2 linked regions of the Homo sapiens genome follow. The protein of the gene in region 2 interacts with the protein of the main gene of each other region in a biochemical or structural test. Each region holds a gene or a part of one and is shown on either strand. Other genes may lie near its edges.

Region 1 (8,654 bases), on a different chromosome or scaffold from region 2:
AGCTGGAATTGCTCTAAGCAATTCCAGGGCCTTGCAATTTTACAATTAAGGAAGACTTAAATATATACATAGTCAGGGTGGCAAGGTAAAAGGAGGTCTGATTTCCTCTGCGATGTTCTTCAGCTAAGACCTAAATTCTGAAACCGTTAAAACCTGAAGTGCCTTTAAATATATTATTTCATCAGAGCCCCAGGTTCATTGTGTCACTTATCAAGGTCTGATTTAGGGTCCTCAAGGACTAATCTTGTTAGTGTTTAAAAGCAACTAGGTTTTGTTTTTGGCATTTTAGTTCCATCTTCTAGATTCTGTTGTCTTGCAGATAGAGATCAGGGAGCCCAGCTACACATTCATTCTTCTAGTCCCTTGTACTCATTGTATTTCCTTCTGCCTTAGGGCCTTAGTTTGTGCTGTTCCCTGTACCAGGAACTCTCTTTGCTGTTTCTCGGTTTCTTGCTCAAATGTCACTTCAAGGAAGGCTTTCCTGACTGACTTCTTATTTTTTAAGTTGTTACAACATTGTGTACCTTTGTTTTATAGCACTTACATTTATTTCTATGAATATTTCCTTAATGCCTATATTCCTTCCTAAATCGTAAGCTGCACGAGAGCAGGATCATTTGTGTCTGCCTTACTAACCTTTTCATCTTGAGTGCCTGGCACAGTGCTTGGTACCTGGATTGATACTTAATAAATATTTGCTAAGCAAATGTAGTGTAACCTCAAATCCATGGGCTAAGTCAAGCTCTAGGCAATTCCAGGGACTTTTGAAGTGATTTTGATTTTTGCCCACCCTTGTAATCAGGAAAATAATTTATCCTTTGTGGCTGCCGTGTCTGGTTTATTTGAACTGGACTTTCTCAACATTTAAACTAGGTTACTCTGAGTGTTTTGTTTTCTCAGGCTTTTGTGTCACCTGAAGAAATAGTGTGAAGGTGCTTTGTATTCTTCACAGATGGCAATCTTGGCAATGTTTGCCTGTTTTAAAGTCTAGATGTTTGTAGTTTTTCTGGTAACAACTATTTTGTGTGTTATTTACAGGAAGTGAATATTGAATTTGAAGCTTATTCCCTATCAGATAATGATTATGACGGAATTAAGAAATTACTGCAGCAGGTATTGTCTTTTATTTATTATGCATAAATTTCCTCTTCTAAGAAAAATCAGGGGCCGGGTGCAGTGGTTCATGCCTATAATCTCAGCATTTTGGAAGGCCGAGGTGAGAGGATTGCTTGAGCCCAGGAGTTTGAGACCAGCCTGGGCAACATAATGAGAACCTGTCTCTACAAAAAAATTAAAAATTAGCCAACTGTGGTAGCACACACCGTTAGTCCTAACTCCTCAGGAGGCTGAGGCTGGAGGATTACTTGAGTCTAAGAGCTCAAGGCTGCAGCTATGAATGTGCCATTGAGCTCCAGTCTGGGCAACAGAGTGAGCCTCTGTCTCTAAAAAAAAAGAAAATTCAGGTCATTCAATACAGGCTCTCCCAAGTTCATCTTTTTAGAATTTCCATTTCTATCCTCTCCACCTTGCCTGGAAGGAAGAATTATTTCCTTTCATCTGCTAATTAGAGTTATTTTGTTTTTTTTTTTAATTCACAATTCTTATGTAACAGTCATATAACTGTGCTGTTTGGTGCTATAAAATTGATGCTTGCTGCTTCTCCTTATTCTTTTACTCATATAATATGACTTTGGTTCTTTAGCCTTTATAGCTCTACCGTCTTTTTCACCAAATTCTTTGGCCTTAAGTTTATCCTCTCTCGTTTCTCCCTTTTTTCTCCCCCTCCCCCATTACTTCTATATTACTACTGACTTCTTCTTTTCTGAAATTTCCTAATCTTTAGCTTCTTTGACTCTCCTGGGCTTTTCTTTCCCTCTTGGGGTTGCTTTTCTAGATCATCATCTTAAGTCACAGAAATTTCATTGTTTGTATTTGAATATAGGATTTGAAGTTATTAGAAATCATGCTTTGATCTTAATTTAAAATAATTTTTTCCTCCTTTTAGCTTTTTCTAAAGGCTCCTGTGAACACTGCAGAACTAACAGATCTCTTAATTCAACAGAACCATATTGGGAGTGTGATTAAGGTAAGTAGGATAATTGTGTTTATTCTGATTAAATGAGTTCTTTATTCTGTTCATGCTGGGCCTCACCATGCTTGTAATCCCAGCACTTTGGGAAGCAAAGGTGGGAGGATTGCTTGAGGCCAGGAGTTCAAGACCATCCTGGGCAATATAGCAATACTCTGTCTCTACAAAAAATAACAAAAAATTAGCCGGGCATAGTAGCACATGCCTGTAGTCTTTTTACCCAGGTGGCTGAGGTAGGAGGATCTCTTGAGCCAAGAAGTTGAAGGCCATGGTGAGCTTTGTGCCGCTGCACTCTAGCCGGGCAACACAGCAAGACCCTATATCTGAAAAAAAAAAAAAAAAAAAAAAAAAGTTCTTTATTCTGTTTAGCTCAAATTGGAAGCAGTATTACTGGAGGAATGGAGACTGATCAGAAGTCATTGCAGAAATCCAAGCTTATTAAATGCAGTAGTCCAGGTGGGGGCAATGGAGAGGGAGAGAAGTGGGCTCATTTAGAAAATATTTGGGAGATGAAATATGATGAGGTTTAGTCCCTGATTGGGTCTGAAAGTGAGAGGAAAAGGAGTCAAGGATGACTTCCAGGTTTCTAGCTTGAGCAAACAGGATAACAAACATGGAGGAAGGTCAAATTAGGAGGGGGAATGTGAATTTGGATTTGTACATTTTGAGTTTGAGTTACCTGTGAGATACCGGGTAGCAGGTGGAGCCCTGGAGACTTGGGAGTTGGTCGTAAATGTTACTGAGGTCGTAGAAGTGATTGAGATTGCGCAGGGAGGGAAGGGACAGACACCTTAGTAATACCAAGAATACTTCGATGAGTAATATAAGTGGCAGAGCCAGCAAAGGAGATTAAAAGGGATGACAGGAGAAGTAGAAGAAACAATAGTGCAGTGATGTCATACACAGCAAGAAAGATAACATTTGAAGGAGGAGGGGATGGTCATCTTTATCAGATAGATGTTGTAGAGAGCTCAACAAAATAAGGACTGGTTTAGACCCTGGGTCTGCTGCTTATCATCTGGTGGTTCTTTGGGTTATCTGTTGTTTGTATAACAAACCACCCCATAGCTTAGTGTCGTAAAATAGCAGTAGTCATTTATTTGGCTAATGGATCTACAGTTTGGACAGAGCTCAGTGGGCACAACTCATCTGTGCTCCTGCTCCATCATGTTAGCTGGGGTGGCTTGACTAGGGGCTGGAGGATTCCCTTTCAAGATGGCTCACTCACATGACTGGCAAGTTAGCCCTAGCTGTCTGTCGGGAGCTTAGCTGGGACTCTGGACCAGGGGCCTTAGTTCTTCTCCATGTGGGCCTCGTCACACATTGGTTTGCTTCCAAGAGCAAGCTGCCCAAAAGAAGCAGGCAGAAGTGATATAGTGCCATTTCCACCATTTGCTTAGTCTTTACAGATAGAAATTTCTATCTAGGGGGAGGGCACATTGATCCCACCACTCCATGAGAAAAGTACCTAGGTCACTTTGTCAGAAGAGCATGTCCAAGGAGAGATCCATTGGGGCCATCTGTGAAAGATACAGTCTGCCACAGTACCTTAATCTGTTTCCATTTCTGTCTCTGAAAATGAGGATGGTACTAGCACCGATCTTGTAGAGTGCATGGGTAAACAAAATGAATTGCTGACTGCTTAAAACAGTGTCTGGCAGCTGACATGTGCTACATATGTGTAGCTGTCACTGTTGATGTCTTTTTCCTGTTCCTAGCACCTGTTCCCTAGCCTGTTGTGAAAAACACAACAAACAAAAGCTCCATTCAGTCTAATGTTCCACTCTTAAGTACATCACCTTCAGAGCCAAAATTCTTGAAAAGTAATCTTAAGTCATGGTTTCTACTTCCTGTCCTCCTATTCATTCTTCAGACACTCTTATCTGACTTTTACACCACTAAAATTCGGACACTGAGTGATAGGGTCACCAACATACTTGTTACTAAATACAGTGTACACTTTTCAAGGCTTCTGACAATATTAGTAACTTTATGGCACTCAATGTAAAGAAAATGAGAAATTAAACCTATGGGGCATTCCTTTTATTAGGGCAATGGGAAAAAGCAGACCACCTGCCCTTTCATCAAATAAATGTGATCTCTAGCTGATTCGTGTCTTAGAAGACCTAATGGATATGGAGGAGAAGCAGTTATTTTTATCCTTGAAAGAGGTTATTATCTAATGGCAGGATTCACTCTTTAAATGGATAATCACATCAATAGCTCTGCAGTTGTAACTGTGGCTTCTTGGGATTCTCCAGAGACACTTGAGGTGTCCTGAGGATAGAGACTTCTTGTTCTTAGTAAAGGGACTACCCATAGTGTTCGGTGGAGCCAGTCCCTAGGATCATAGAACAAAGGGCAGGGGGTTCTCTTTTTTCCCCTTCTCTCTTGCTAATGTGATAGGTGTAAGTGGCCCTCAAGCATTGCCTAGCTTCACTAATGGTCAAGACTGACAAGTGTTCTGGAAACTCATGAGTTTTAGATGAAACAATGCTGTGGGCCAGCAGAGAAGCAAGGCTTGGCTCCAGCCTAATTGTGTAGAAAACAAATGAAAATGCTTTATTTCATGAGGTTTATCTCTTCTGGATTTGTATTATATTGAGAATCTGATAAAAGAAAATGACTTAATCTGGTACAAAGAAATTTCAATCTGTTCAGAATCTGAAAAGAGGAACAGAGTCGAGGTAAAGCGAAATGAACAAGGTCACACAGTATTTAAGATACAATGCTTTCCAAGATGATGGTGGTAAAACTGTGACAGTATTTAAAATACAATGCTTTCTAAGATGGCGGTGGTAAAACAAAGTTTTGCTTTTGAAAAGTGAAAAGATAAATGAGGCCTACATCCCAAGACTTGGTTTTATACTCTTGGTATTATACTAAATATAACATTTAAATATTTTTTCTTTTAAAATAGCAAACGGATGTTTCAGAAGACAGCAATGATGATATGGATGAAGATGAGGTTTTTGGTTTCATAAGCCTTTTAAATTTAACTGAAAGAAAGGTTGGTTTCACTGGATGGCATCTGAATGGTTATTTCTTAGGCCAAAACCACTTTTATTTAATGCATGGTGAAAATGTCTTTTATGTTAAACAGTGATATTAACTATAGGGATAAGTGCTCTTGTGAAATCTTATTGTAATCCTTTTTCAATATGAAGGTGGTGGTGTTGGGTCTGTACCCAGTTAAAGTTGTTTACTCCCTGTGGTTTAGGGAATCATCTGGCTTTGCAGTCCTGATGTTGGTACTGATGCAGGAGCTGTTTGTGCTGTCTCTCTGCAGCTGTTATCTTTGCTACTTGTGTAGTGGGGATATTCTCAGGCTTTGCTGCCTCAATGTTGAGGGCATTTACTGACATTTTATTTTGTTTCGATTCATCTCTTTTTATTGATTCTCTGATGAGTTGTAATAAAAAGTAAACCAGCTGCTTACCCACCTCAGAATAAGATGCAGGCTACACTTAGTCTTTAATTTTGAAATAAACTGTCCAGTTACTTCCATCTATCTTTATGAGATGGACTAGAGTTGCCATTCCAGTGTGTCTGAATGTTAATTATGACTCTCTTACCACTCATCATGGGATGGTAAATAACCAGTGTATTTACTTTTGAGAAATGCTTAAGCAGTCAACACTGAAGACATACAAGACGTTAAGGCTATGGCAGGAAACTGCCCTTAGCTGTAAGATGAAAAGTGATAGCTTTTACTCTCAGGTTTTGTCCTCTATGTGATGGCTTGTAATAGGAAACAAGCTTTCTCTTTGCTTTCTAGGGTACCCAGTGTGTTGAACAAATTCAAGAGTTGGTTCTACGCTTCTGTGAGAAGAACTGTGAAAAGAGCATGGTTGAACAGCTGGACAAGTTTTTAAATGACACCACCAAGCCTGTGGGCCTTCTCCTAAGTGAAAGATTCATTAATGTCCCTCCACAGATCGCTCTGCCCATGTACCAGCAGCTTCAGTAAGAGATTCTGGGAAAATATCTTTGAACAGTAATTTTTTTTTCAAATAGATTCCTAAATGTCATTTAAGTAGAATATGTAGATATAGAAAGAGTTCTGTCCTTGGTTTAAGTGGGTTTAGTGTGAGGGGAGTGGAAGAAACATCCTGTGAAGTACATACATTATTAACAACTGGCTTTTTGAAGAGTTTGTGACAATAATCATGAAATTTTAACTTAAGATTTAAGTGATATATAAGTAGATAATTTCATATAGACTTTGCATCCCCATTTGATTGAAGTTTTTCACCTTCACAGATAGCTTTCTGCAACATGAATAAAATAATGAACAATTACAACAATAACAAAACTGGTAAAGTTCCCAAATTCTATTGGTATGTTTCATAACAAATGAAACCATAGTCCTGATACTGTGGCTAGCTTTTCAGGGTTTTTGTTATTCTATTTTTTAATCCAGAAGTTTTAAGTTTACAAAAATATTTCAAATGTAGCTGTGAAATCTAGCAAACTGAGTGTACTAAGAATTGTATTGTCTGTGCTTTGCAACAGAGGACAAAATATAGGCAGATTCTCTTATTTATTTCTATCTAATTTAAATTTTTTTTTTTTTTTGGTAGAGACAGGGTCTTGCTACATTGCCCAGGCTGGTCTTGAACTCCTAGGCTAAAGTGATCTTCCTGCCTCGGCCTCCCAGTGTTGGGATTACAGGTGTCAGTCACAGCACTTGACCTAGACAGGTTCTTTATAGAATATTCTTTCTCAGAGGTCATAGCCCTTGCGTTGTGGTTTTCCTTTAAATAGCTGTAGGAATGCAACTCTACTCTGGAAACCTTTACGTTTGCTGTTTTTTCCTAGGGATTCGATGCTTCTTATCTCCTGCTCCCTGCTCTCTCAGCTGTAGCTCAGATTGTGCTTCTGGTGCCTTAAGTGGTTTTTGTTTTTTTTTGGTTTTCTTTTTTTCTGATCAGCTGGAGCTCACATTTATTTGGTTTTATAGGAGGGTGATTTGCTTTCTCCTAGTCCTGTTAAAGCTGAAGTGAGCCAAGCGCAGTGGTGCACGCCTGTAGTCGCAGCTACTCAGGAGGCTGAGGCAGGGGGAATGCTTGAGGCCAGGAGTTCCAGGCTGCAATATACTATGATTGTGCCTGTGAATAGCCACTGCACGCCAGCCTGGGCAAAATTACAAGACCCTATCTTTTTTTTTTTCTTTTTTTTTTTTTGAAAAGGCCAGGTGTGGTGGCTGACACTTGTAATTCCAACACTTTGGGAGGCCGAAGCTGGCAGATCACTTGAGGCTAGGAGTTTGAGACCAGCCTGGCCAACATGGCGAAACCCCAATTCTACTAAAAATACACCCACAAAAAATTAGCCGGGTATGGTGGTGCAGACCTGTAATCCCAGCTACTCAGGAGGCTTAGGCACGAAAATCGTGTGAACCTGGCAGGCAGAGGTTGCAGTGAGCCGAGATTGTGCCATTGTACTCTACAGCCTGGGCAACAGAGTGAGATTTTGTCTCCAAACGAAAAAAAGAAAAAAAAAAAAAAGGAAAGCTGAAGAGGACGGTTGTTCTGAGTTTCTTCTTTTGTTCAAGGGCATCCAGATGCACAAGGCTATGTTTAATTTTCAGAAAGAAGAAACATTAAGGCTTTGTTGCGATTCCATTGCTAGAATTTAGGTTGTGTGTTTATGCAGTTTCTGCAGTATGTCAGAAATTAGTTCCAGACTCTAGCAATTAGAGACTGTGGTAGTAGTCACAGGCTGTAGTGACATTGGTTGTGGCTGTATACCTTTGTGTGTTTCAGTTAAATGTTCATTGCTTTAAAAAATTCAAAAATTCAGATTCGTATATATTTTTAACTTATGCACAGGCAGAGCAGTGATACATTGAGTGAATTTGAGACTCATCTGATCTGTTAGTTGCTATATATCCACAAATCAGCATAATCTGAGAGATATATCATAGTATTATAAAAAGTAATACATAATCTAAAATGCAACTGATTATGTAAATAAAAATCATTCCTGTAGACTAAGTGTTCAGATTGAATGCCTGCGTCACAGCAGAACCCACTGAAGATGCCTCACCGGGTTTTCTGTGCTCTGGTTTGTTGATGGATTTCACTTGACCCAGCAGGTAAACAAATGTTGTGTGTGTGCCTTGCAGGAAAGAACTGGCGGGGGCACACAGAACCAATAAGCCATGTGGGAAGTGCTACTTTTACCTTCTGATTAGTAAGACATTTGTGGAAGCAGGAAAAAACAATTCCAAAAAGAAACCTAGCAACAAAAAGAAAGCTGCGTTAATGTTTGCAAATGCAGAGGAAGAATTTTTCTATGAGGTAAGACTATCCTGCTTATTTGTTTAGATGTAAATAAGGATTTTCTTGAAAATGATTTATCAAGATTTATTGTTCTCCCACTTTAGGTCCAAGTCTTTCAAGTGTGGCTACTCTGTTTTTCTGTTTCCCCACAGGACCTAGCAGCTAACATAGTGCCAGGTGCATAGTAGGTACTCAGGAGGCTAGGCACCAGCCTCCTTGCCTGCACTGTGGTTATGAGCATGAGGAGGAGGAGGAGAAAAGTGATTAACCTGTTAAGA
Region 2 (8,923 bases):
AAGTGGGAAGTAATCATTTCAGCAAGGCCTAGATAAGAAAACATGAGCAATGGAAACAATGACAATCTTTTCTTTTCCTTTTCCATCGGTTACAATTGAGTGACCTTGGGAGGTATCCAAATGATCATTTTGTCCATGCTTCTTGGCAAATACTTCAGCTAGCTTAGGAACTTGCCGCACGGGGTTAACCTCCTAATTCGACATAACGTTTTGGATAGGTAGGGATGGGTTATGGTCAGATCAGTTTTCATTGTTATATTTACATTTTGACTTTAATGGGGTTTGGACAAATCTCAAGAGCAGAGTTGCTATTGCCAGGCCCCAGCACTGCACAAGTACAGCCAGCAATTCGGCCCACCGACTGGCAGGATGGGCTCCTGCCCTGGGCATCACACACCTATAAAAATAAATTTGTTAAGGAACATACAGCCACTTCTGTCAGTAGAGGTCTGGTGCTCAGTGTTAAAGACTGCATAAAACTTTACCCTAAACTTTTGCTTTCAAAACCAACACCGTTCGGGCCCCAGAGAAACACTTCTCCCCTATAGTCCCTTGTCCTTGAAACAAAGGTGAGTGCATCCCACAACCTGAAGATTTGCAGGGTGTGCTGCTGCTGACATGGAAGATGGACACTCCTAAACGTGTGGATGATGTATAGTGGAGGCGCTTGATTCAAAGAAAAGTCAAATGAATTAAACTGTCAAAACCTTCCTTTTAGATAGCAAGCATATCATACAGTCTTAAATAATGAGGGTTTCCTAGCAATGCCAAACATTCATTTTCTTGCTTCTCTTTTTGTTACAATTCATGGTTCTGGCAGAAGTCATACAGCAGTATAGCATTTGCATGCGGTTGAACGTGGTGATTGGCCAATATTTTGAAAAATTAACTAATTAATGTTACTGTTAAAATGGTAGATATGAAGTTATAACACATGAAACATAATACTGATTATTTATGTTAGCAACCAGGTGGACAATGAATGCTAGAATTGCTAAGTTTATGTTTTATTTACACATTAATAAGGTGTAATTAAATTTCCAAATATTAAATAAAATGTTTATGCTTTAAAAAAATAACTTTTCAGTGTTTATATTCATTGTCATAATTTGTATTTTGCATTTTAATTCTAATAGATAACTTTAAATCATTTGAAAGAAAACTTTTAACAACTATAGAAAAATAATTCTAATTTTCTGAAATAAAAAAAGGAATTTACATTTGTGGTGTAAGTACAAACATTTTGTATGATTTGACTACATTAATCCTTTATTTATTTATTTTTTAGAATTGGGATTTCATTCTTTACCCAGACGGAGTGTAGAGTGCACAGCTCATTGCAACCTCAAACTCCTAGGCTCAAATGATCCTCCAGCCTCAGCCTCCTGAGTAGGTGGGACTACAGGGATAAACCACCATGTTTGACTATTTAAAAAACTGTTTTGTAGTGACAGGATCTTGCCATGTTGTCCAAGCTGGTCTAGAAATCCTGGCCTCAAGTGATCCTCTGGCCTCTGCCTCTTGAGTCGCTGGGATTACAGGTGTGAGCCACCACATGGGGCCTGAATAGATGAATCTTTTAGATCAATGTTGTTCAATAGTGCTTTCTATGATGATGGACTTGTTTTCTCTCCATGTTGTACAATACATTAGCTCTAGCCACATGAAGCTACTGAGCATTTGAAATGTAGCTAGTGTCACTGAGGAACAGAACACCTGAAATGCTGTTAGGTGCTACCATACAGAACAGCAAAGCTTTCAATCACCGCTGTCAATGGAACACAAATTAAGTGAAAATCTCAATTATAACAACACAGTGATTTTACTAAAGAGAAATATCAATTTTATAGAATAAATATATATGAATCATGTATATTACTTATCCATATAGCCTATCAAAGAAAATCTAGATATGTATAATGTCTAGCAGATATGCATAATTCAGTTGCTGATATTTTGCTTTTTGTCATATAAAATCTGTAGGTTTTATATTTCAATTTTATTGTTATATGTGTCAAGGTAGGAATATACATAGTAGTTTGCTAGCTTAATTAATAACTTTGAAATATTAGGCATATGGTAAGTGGCTATGCATTTGTACTCTTGCCCAAGCCTACCAATGTCAGGGGCTGGCCTGACAGCACCCCTAACTCTGAGCAGCCATTCTGCAAATGTCACTATTGTCCTCAGTGAGTCAGGAGTGAAATGTGGTTAAAACTAAATCTCTACTGCTGAAAAAACAAGTCAAAGCAAATGTCCCACTGGGAGGATTCCTACAGCATCCCTTCCTTAGAGGAAGTCCAATCCATTCATTTCAGCAGAGGACTTCCATTTAGGCTCAAAGGCTGCTCTGACCAGTTACCTGTAAGAGGGAGTAAACTAACAGTAGTTGTCATGAATTGAGAGGGCAGAAGCTGCTGGCAAAAATCCCACCACCCTTTGAAATGTGGATGGAAGGCTGCAAAGGGTAGAGTCAACTTAACAGTGTAAAGATAGAGAACAGGGGTAATAGAAATTTACAGACCCTCCCACTAAGCTTTAAGTAACAGGCAGAAGGGACAGGGTTTGTAGAGGTTACCAAGAGGAGTCCTGTGGCAGCAGCAGTTGGAGTACTGGCAGGGATTTCTGTCTAATGCCTCAGTGGCAGGTCCGTAGAGTGGCCCTTTCCTCTTCCATCCAGCTCCTCATCGTCCCCCCGCAGGGGGATTGAGTTTCCCTTGCCCATAGTGGTAACCTGCTTATTGACACATCTCATATCGATGTCTGCTTTTTTTTTTCTTCTCTGTCTTGCTGTCTCACCTTCCTTATAGTGCTTTCTGGGATCACTTCCCCAATTCAAAACCACTTATAGTTAAATCCTAACCTCCAGGTCTGTTTCTGAGGGAGCCCAGCCTAAGACAACCTCCAGTACTTAGCACAGTGCCTGACATATGGTATTGACTCAGTAGATATTTGCTGAAAGAATAAAATACTTTGCAAATGAAATCCTACCCTAATATTAACTTCACCTAATTTAAAGAAGTTACTCTGAAGCAAAGTGATTAGATCAACTTTTGTCTCCCTAGCTTCCACCTCTGTCCTCCCACTAGCAGAAAAACTCCATTGGAAAGCCTATTACTAATTTTTTTTAAAGCAAATTTGAACTGCAGTATAGAACACAAGTACATCAAAATGGAAAGCCCAGGTTGCAGATTTGACCATCCTCACTTGCTGATCTTGAAGACATTGCTTCCTTTCTGAGATTTCAATGTTCATTTCACAATTAAAGATAAGGTTCCATAAGCACATAGTTGGGAGAAGTGGCAGGACAATGTAAGCTCATATTAACAAGCAAATGATTAATATAGAGACTTCTAAAGAGCAGGTCTGGTAAGTATCTAGTAAGTGGACTTCCTGAAGTAAGAGGAGTGTTGGTTGCCACACTAAAGGCAAGTCTTCTAGTCCCCAAATTTGCCTTGGGAGGATGACAGCTGTATCTTTCTTGGTTCTGGTGTACAGTGGAGAACAGGGTCAAGATGAGTGTGGAATCCATTTATTTTTTTACGTGTTTATAAGCACTAGAAAGCAGTGAGCACTAAGCAGAGGACCCCTCTTGCGGAAAAAGTGCAGGAGAGCTCCTGGGTGCCTCTGTATCACCGGTTTGCCTTCTAGCCAGAATCATTGCTAGAACCCTGTCACTCAGTTACTTTGGTTCCTAATTTAACCTCTTCCCAAGCCTTCTATTGCGTTCAGTTAGCTAGGCCAGGAGCTTACAGCTGTCTGGTTGGTGCTGGCTCAATGTGCTTATTCCCTGGAAGATAGAAGGATCACTTACAAAAAAATTTACAATTAAAATAAAAAAATTATTTTTTGCTGAAGCATTGTAAGGTTTTTTTAATTCACTCAGACCCAAAATCGTAAAACTAAAATATTTCAAGACATTACTTGATTCACCCCCCACTTCTCTTTCTCCCCTGTTTCTCAGCACTTTGCACCAGATACAGAAACCACGGGTTATGTCCAAACCCTGGTTTTGGTGTGACCACCGCCTTCCGTGTACTGCCTGCGGCTCGCTTCGGGCCCACACGGGACACCGAGGCATGATGAGGACGCAGAACAGCAGAAGCGCGCCCTGCTTCCCGGGCGCCAGTGCTCGGGGCCAGCGGCGTGTACCCGGCGGGCCCGGCCGGGAGCGGGCTGGCGATCGCGGGGCTCGGCGCTCCCGGCTCCCGCGCCATCTCCCGGCGCCCGCCAACTTCGCTCCGCCCGCGGCGTAGAGAAGCTCGCAGCCCTCCGGAGCCTCAGCGATCTCCTGGCTCGCTTTTCCCGCAGCCGCCGAGCAGCGCAGGCCCGGCGACTCCGGGTGCAGCTGGCCCTGTGCGGTGACATCGCCGTCCGGCGCCAGGCTCGAAGCCGCCTGGCCGCGCCCGCGGGGTCGCAGGCCGCTGGTCCCGCCCGGCCGCGCTCACAAACTACTCGCGGCTCGTGACCCGGGACAAACTTCTGGCGGCGGCGCAGCCTCTTCCACAGTCACCCTCCCCAGAGCCAGCTACCAAAATAGAAGACGCGGCCGGGGCGAGGAGGTGGGCGGGGGGAGCCCGGTGGCCGCTCCTCCCCGCGCGGCTGACGCCCGCTTCGGCGGCGGTAGTGGCTGTGGCCGCGGGGCCGCCCCCAGCCGAGCTCCCGGAGGCGCTCGGGCGCGGGCCGGCGGGGCACGGGCGCTCACGCCCTCTAGCGGGCCGCGGCGGCGCCGGGCGGCCGTGACGTGAGCGCTCCCTTCAGCCGGCCTGCGGGGCACCGCCAGTCAGTCGGGGAGCAAGAGCCCCGCGCGCAGCCGGCGCGGGCTCGGTCATCGGCGCGCCGCCGCCCGGGGCTGGGCTTGGGGCTGCCTGTGGAGAGGCGGCGGGCGGAACGCGCGCGGCCACGGCCACGGCCACCGCCACGGCCACGGCCGGCAGCTCGGGTCCCGGGTCCCGGGCAGGGGAAGGGGAGAGGCGGCGAGCTCAGCAACCGGAACCGAGGGAAGATTTTGGCTCCGCGGGCTCGCCCTCCGCTCCCTCTGCCAGCGGCGCCAGACGCCGAGTGGGGCCAGGGACAGGGGAGGAGGACCCAGGACCCTGTGCCCGCGCCCCTGGAGCCGCTGGAGTTCGGACTTCTGCAACTGTTGGCACTTTGGGGGCTTGGCTTAGCGCTCTGCTGTTTACCCGTCTCTCCTCGCTGCCTCGGAACCAAAGCTCCCGGCCCCCTCCGCCCTCGCGCGCCCACCCACCGCCGCCGGGGAGCGGCCCGGCCCGCACTCAGCACCATGAGGGGACTTGGGACTTGCCTGGCGACTTTGGCCGGACTTTTGCTAACTGCGGCGGGCGAGACGTTCTCAGGTAAGCGGGACCGCCTCTGCCGCCCCCGAGGCGCGCGGGCCGGCGCGGGACGCCCGGGACGCCGACAGCTCCCTGGTGGTAGAGCCCTAAGGCTGGCGTCGGGGCCGGGCGGGGGGCGCGGCGGGCCGGACACCGCTTCTGCCTGTGAGCCGGGCGCTGGGCGAGGGGCCGTGGGGCTGGCAGGCACCCAGTCCTCGGGCGGGCGGAGCGGACGGACCCCGAGGGCGAGCTCCCCAGCCGGGACTGCCAGCTCGGCCGCCGTCCTTCCGCGGCCTGGGCTAGTGCTCAAGGTTGGGCGGCTTGCACTCTTGAGTCCCTGGCCGGCTGCAAAAGGAACAGCAGAAAACTTTGCTTGAAGTTCCCAGTTGCAGCCGCCGGGCCGCCTGGCGTAGGCGCTGCGCGGTCCCCGCCGACCCCGAGCAGCGGCCGGGCCCAGGCCGCTGGTGTTCGGCTGCGCCCGCAGCGATCGCCGGGAACTGGCGGCCGCTCCGGCGGCGGCGATCTCCCGGTGCCCTGCCCTCCCTGTCGCCCCCTGCCCGGCGCGGCTGGCGACCCCGGGAGGTCCCCGCGGTCGTGCAGCGTCTGCGGAGAGGCTGGGGGGAGTTCCTCGCCGGTCCCAGCGGTAGGGCTTGGCGGCCGCGGAGGGAAGCGGGCAGGTCCCCAGGCCCTGGCCACGGCCCTGCGCCCCGCTGGGCTCCCCCTCCCCACCCTCGTCCCCCTAGCGGAGCGCCGCGGCCAGCTGCAACTTGTTCATCCAGCCCGGCTGCCCGGGGGTCCCAGGTGGGAAGGAGAGGCACTGGCGGTGTGCGAGCAAGCGTGTGAGTGTGTGCGCGTGTGTGCCTGCACGCGCGCGCGGGGGCGTTCTAAGCCCAGAGGAACCCCTCACGGAGAGGATCTGTGGATCGGAGTCGGGGGTCCGGCGTGGGGGCGAACCCGGCACGCTGTCACAGGGGTTTACAACCAGGATGACCTTTATTACCTGGGTGACACAGGTGGATAGACGGCAAATGCTGGCCCATTTGCACACCTTCTTTCTAGTGTTTATTAGATTAGTTTCATTAAGGTCCACATGCAGTGGGGGCGGTGGGCTTTCTTTTTCTTTAATAAAAAAGCCTGCTCTTTGGTCTTAAACTTGGTTTTTGCAAAATAGGTCTCTGCGTTTGGGAACAAGTGAGTTGAATGAGTAAGTTGGGCTTTTTAAGAATTTAATGAAGAGGACTTTCATAAACAGTAAAGAGCATATTTTAAGCAGTAAAAACCTTTGGTCCTCCGGTGCGTGGAAACCTTTTTATTTTCTTGGGGTCCAGGACCATTGGCTGCTGGAGCTCTGGACTCACAGGCACATTAGTTGTGTCTTGTGTGTTGCTGATCTGCAGGACCCTTGATCACAGTTGGCCTCAGAGAAGGAGTGGAACGTGTAGGTTTTGAAACCCAAAGCATCAACTTCAATACAGAAATATCCTTTCTCCAAGTTTTGTGTTTCCCTAACTGCCTGGTAATTGCACGTGCTCCAGAGGATTTAACACAATGATGCACTGTCGTCTGATTATAAAACTGATGCAGAATTTGGTCTGTGTTCTTATTAGTGAATAATAGAGTAGAATTTGAGAGCCTTGTAACTCATTAGTATTAGAAGCCAAGTATGAGAGCCCTAGTGATGGTTTTCTCTTTATTAACATCCATGACTCCCTTCTTGGGATTTGTTTAAAGTTAAGCTGTGTCAAATATCATTTGGATGGATTTTTAAATTGTGTGCAAGGGAGTGGAAACAAATATTTATATTGCTTATTTAAACCATGGGTTCCTCATCACCAAAAAGGATTTCAGCCTCAGTTGTACTGACCCATGTCCTTGTTAAGGCTGATGTAAATGATCAGTCAAGCCAAAATAGACTTCTACTAAAATTTAGCCTGATTTTTCATTTGGAAGAAATATATCTATTTGTTTGAGTTAATCATACCATTAAGTGAAATGTGTTTTCTTTTCTATCTAGAAAGCCAGAGTTATCCTGGCATGCTAGTGGGTAAAGGGCAGCATCCAAGCCATGCCTCAGAAACGTTGAACTTTAAAAAATGTAAAATTGGATTAGCTGGGTGTGGTGGCGTGTGACTGTAGTCCCAGCTGCTCTAGAGGCAGAGGCAGGAGGATAGCTTGAGCCCAGGAGTTTGAGGTTGCAGTGAGCTATGATTGCACCACTGCACCCCAGCCTGGGTGACAGAGTGAGAATCCGTCTCAAAAAAAAAGTGAAAAGTGAAGATGGCAAATTTCATATGTGCAAGGATCAGATATGTTTCACTTCATTATTTATTTTTCTCTCCATATTGCGTTTAGGTAGTACAGGTGTGAATCAGGGTTTTGTTTTTTGTTTTTGTATGTTGAGGAAGTTAATTCTGAATGCTAGGAGTGGCATTGACACATTTCTTTTTTATGTTTCTTCCAGAAATTGTAGTAATTGGCTGCTTTTCACTTGACATGGGAATAAATTTTAGAGCCAGAAGAGCTAGATTGTAAGCTCCCTGAGGGCAAAGCCAATTTTCGTTTTCTTCTGACTTTCTCACAAAACATTTCTCATAGATCCTTAGATGTCACAGGCATTATTACTATTTGTTGAATAAATCACTAATGAGAATCTTGATCATTTGCACATATTCAAATTGTGTGTGAATGGACCAATATATAATAAAATGGAGGGAGAGAAGTGATTGTTAAAAGTTAGACTTGGCTTGCCTTTTCCACACTGGGTTCTCTTTAGGCCAATGGACTAATCATGAGGGTTTATAAATATAATCAGTCAAGGGTTTTTGTATAACTCAGACATTATCTACACAAGGCACTCTGCCCTTTGCTTTCTGCAGTGCTCTCCTGTCCTCTTTTGGAATGGGTTTGGAATTGTTAAGATTGTTAATTAACCATTTCTGGAGGTGGACTACATGTGATTTGGATACCAGACATCAGAAATAGAATGCTAAACTTACTGGAAAAGTATTAGGATTTGGGCCTGTGATGACATTGCTTACTTATAATGATGGATTTCATTACAAAATTGTGGGTTTTTTTTTTTTTTTGGAGATAGAGTCTTGCTCTGTCGCCAGGCTGGAGTACAGTGGCACGATCTTGGCTCACTGCAACCTCCACCTCCCGGGTTCGAGCGATTCTCCTGCCTCAGCCTCCCGAGTAGCTGGAACTACAGGTGTGCACCACCACCACCGCCAGCTAATTTTTGTATTTTTAGTAGAGACGGGTTTTCACCATGTTGGCCAGGATGGTCTCAATCTCTTGACCTTGTGATCTGCCTGCCTTGGCCTCCCAAAGTGCTGGGATTACAGACATGAGCCACCGTGCCCAGGCTGAAAAATTGTTTTTTATCATTACCGTTTCTAATTTGTTAGGCAAAATAATGGAGGTTCACTTTATATCTTCTAGGTCTTTAGTGTTCACTAAAAATAACTGGTAAGATGGTATATAAGTAAGACATGAGAAAGAAAGTTAAATTATTTTACCTTTGTTGGAAATTCCCTTTTGCATGGTGAGAAACCAACGAGTTGGCAAGTTGTTCCTCTTTGACC

Evidence for each region. Proteins that work in one complex are often made in the same cells at the same time.
Region 1: the proteins of PTPRM (region 2) and BCCIP form a complex in vitro, tested with the Homo sapiens proteins (one study listed by BioGRID).

The regions. Positions count from the first base shown.
Region 1 is NC_000010.11:125,825,553-125,834,206, forward strand, and holds part of BCCIP (BRCA2 and CDKN1A-interacting protein), read left to right. Parts: intron 1-1,038; coding exon 1,039-1,113; intron 1,114-2,005; coding exon 2,006-2,086; intron 2,087-5,009; coding exon 5,010-5,099; intron 5,100-5,867; coding exon 5,868-6,055; intron 6,056-8,219; coding exon 8,220-8,394; intron 8,395-8,654. UniProt on the Homo sapiens protein: During interphase, required for microtubule organizing and anchoring activities. During mitosis, required for the organization and stabilization of the spindle pole.
Region 2 is NC_000018.10:7,562,535-7,571,457, forward strand, and holds the start of PTPRM (receptor-type tyrosine-protein phosphatase mu isoform 1 precursor), read left to right. Parts: upstream 1-4,781; 5' UTR 4,782-5,284; coding exon 5,285-5,357; intron 5,358-8,923. UniProt on the Homo sapiens protein: Receptor protein-tyrosine phosphatase that mediates homotypic cell-cell interactions and plays a role in adipogenic differentiation via modulation of p120 catenin/CTNND1 phosphorylation.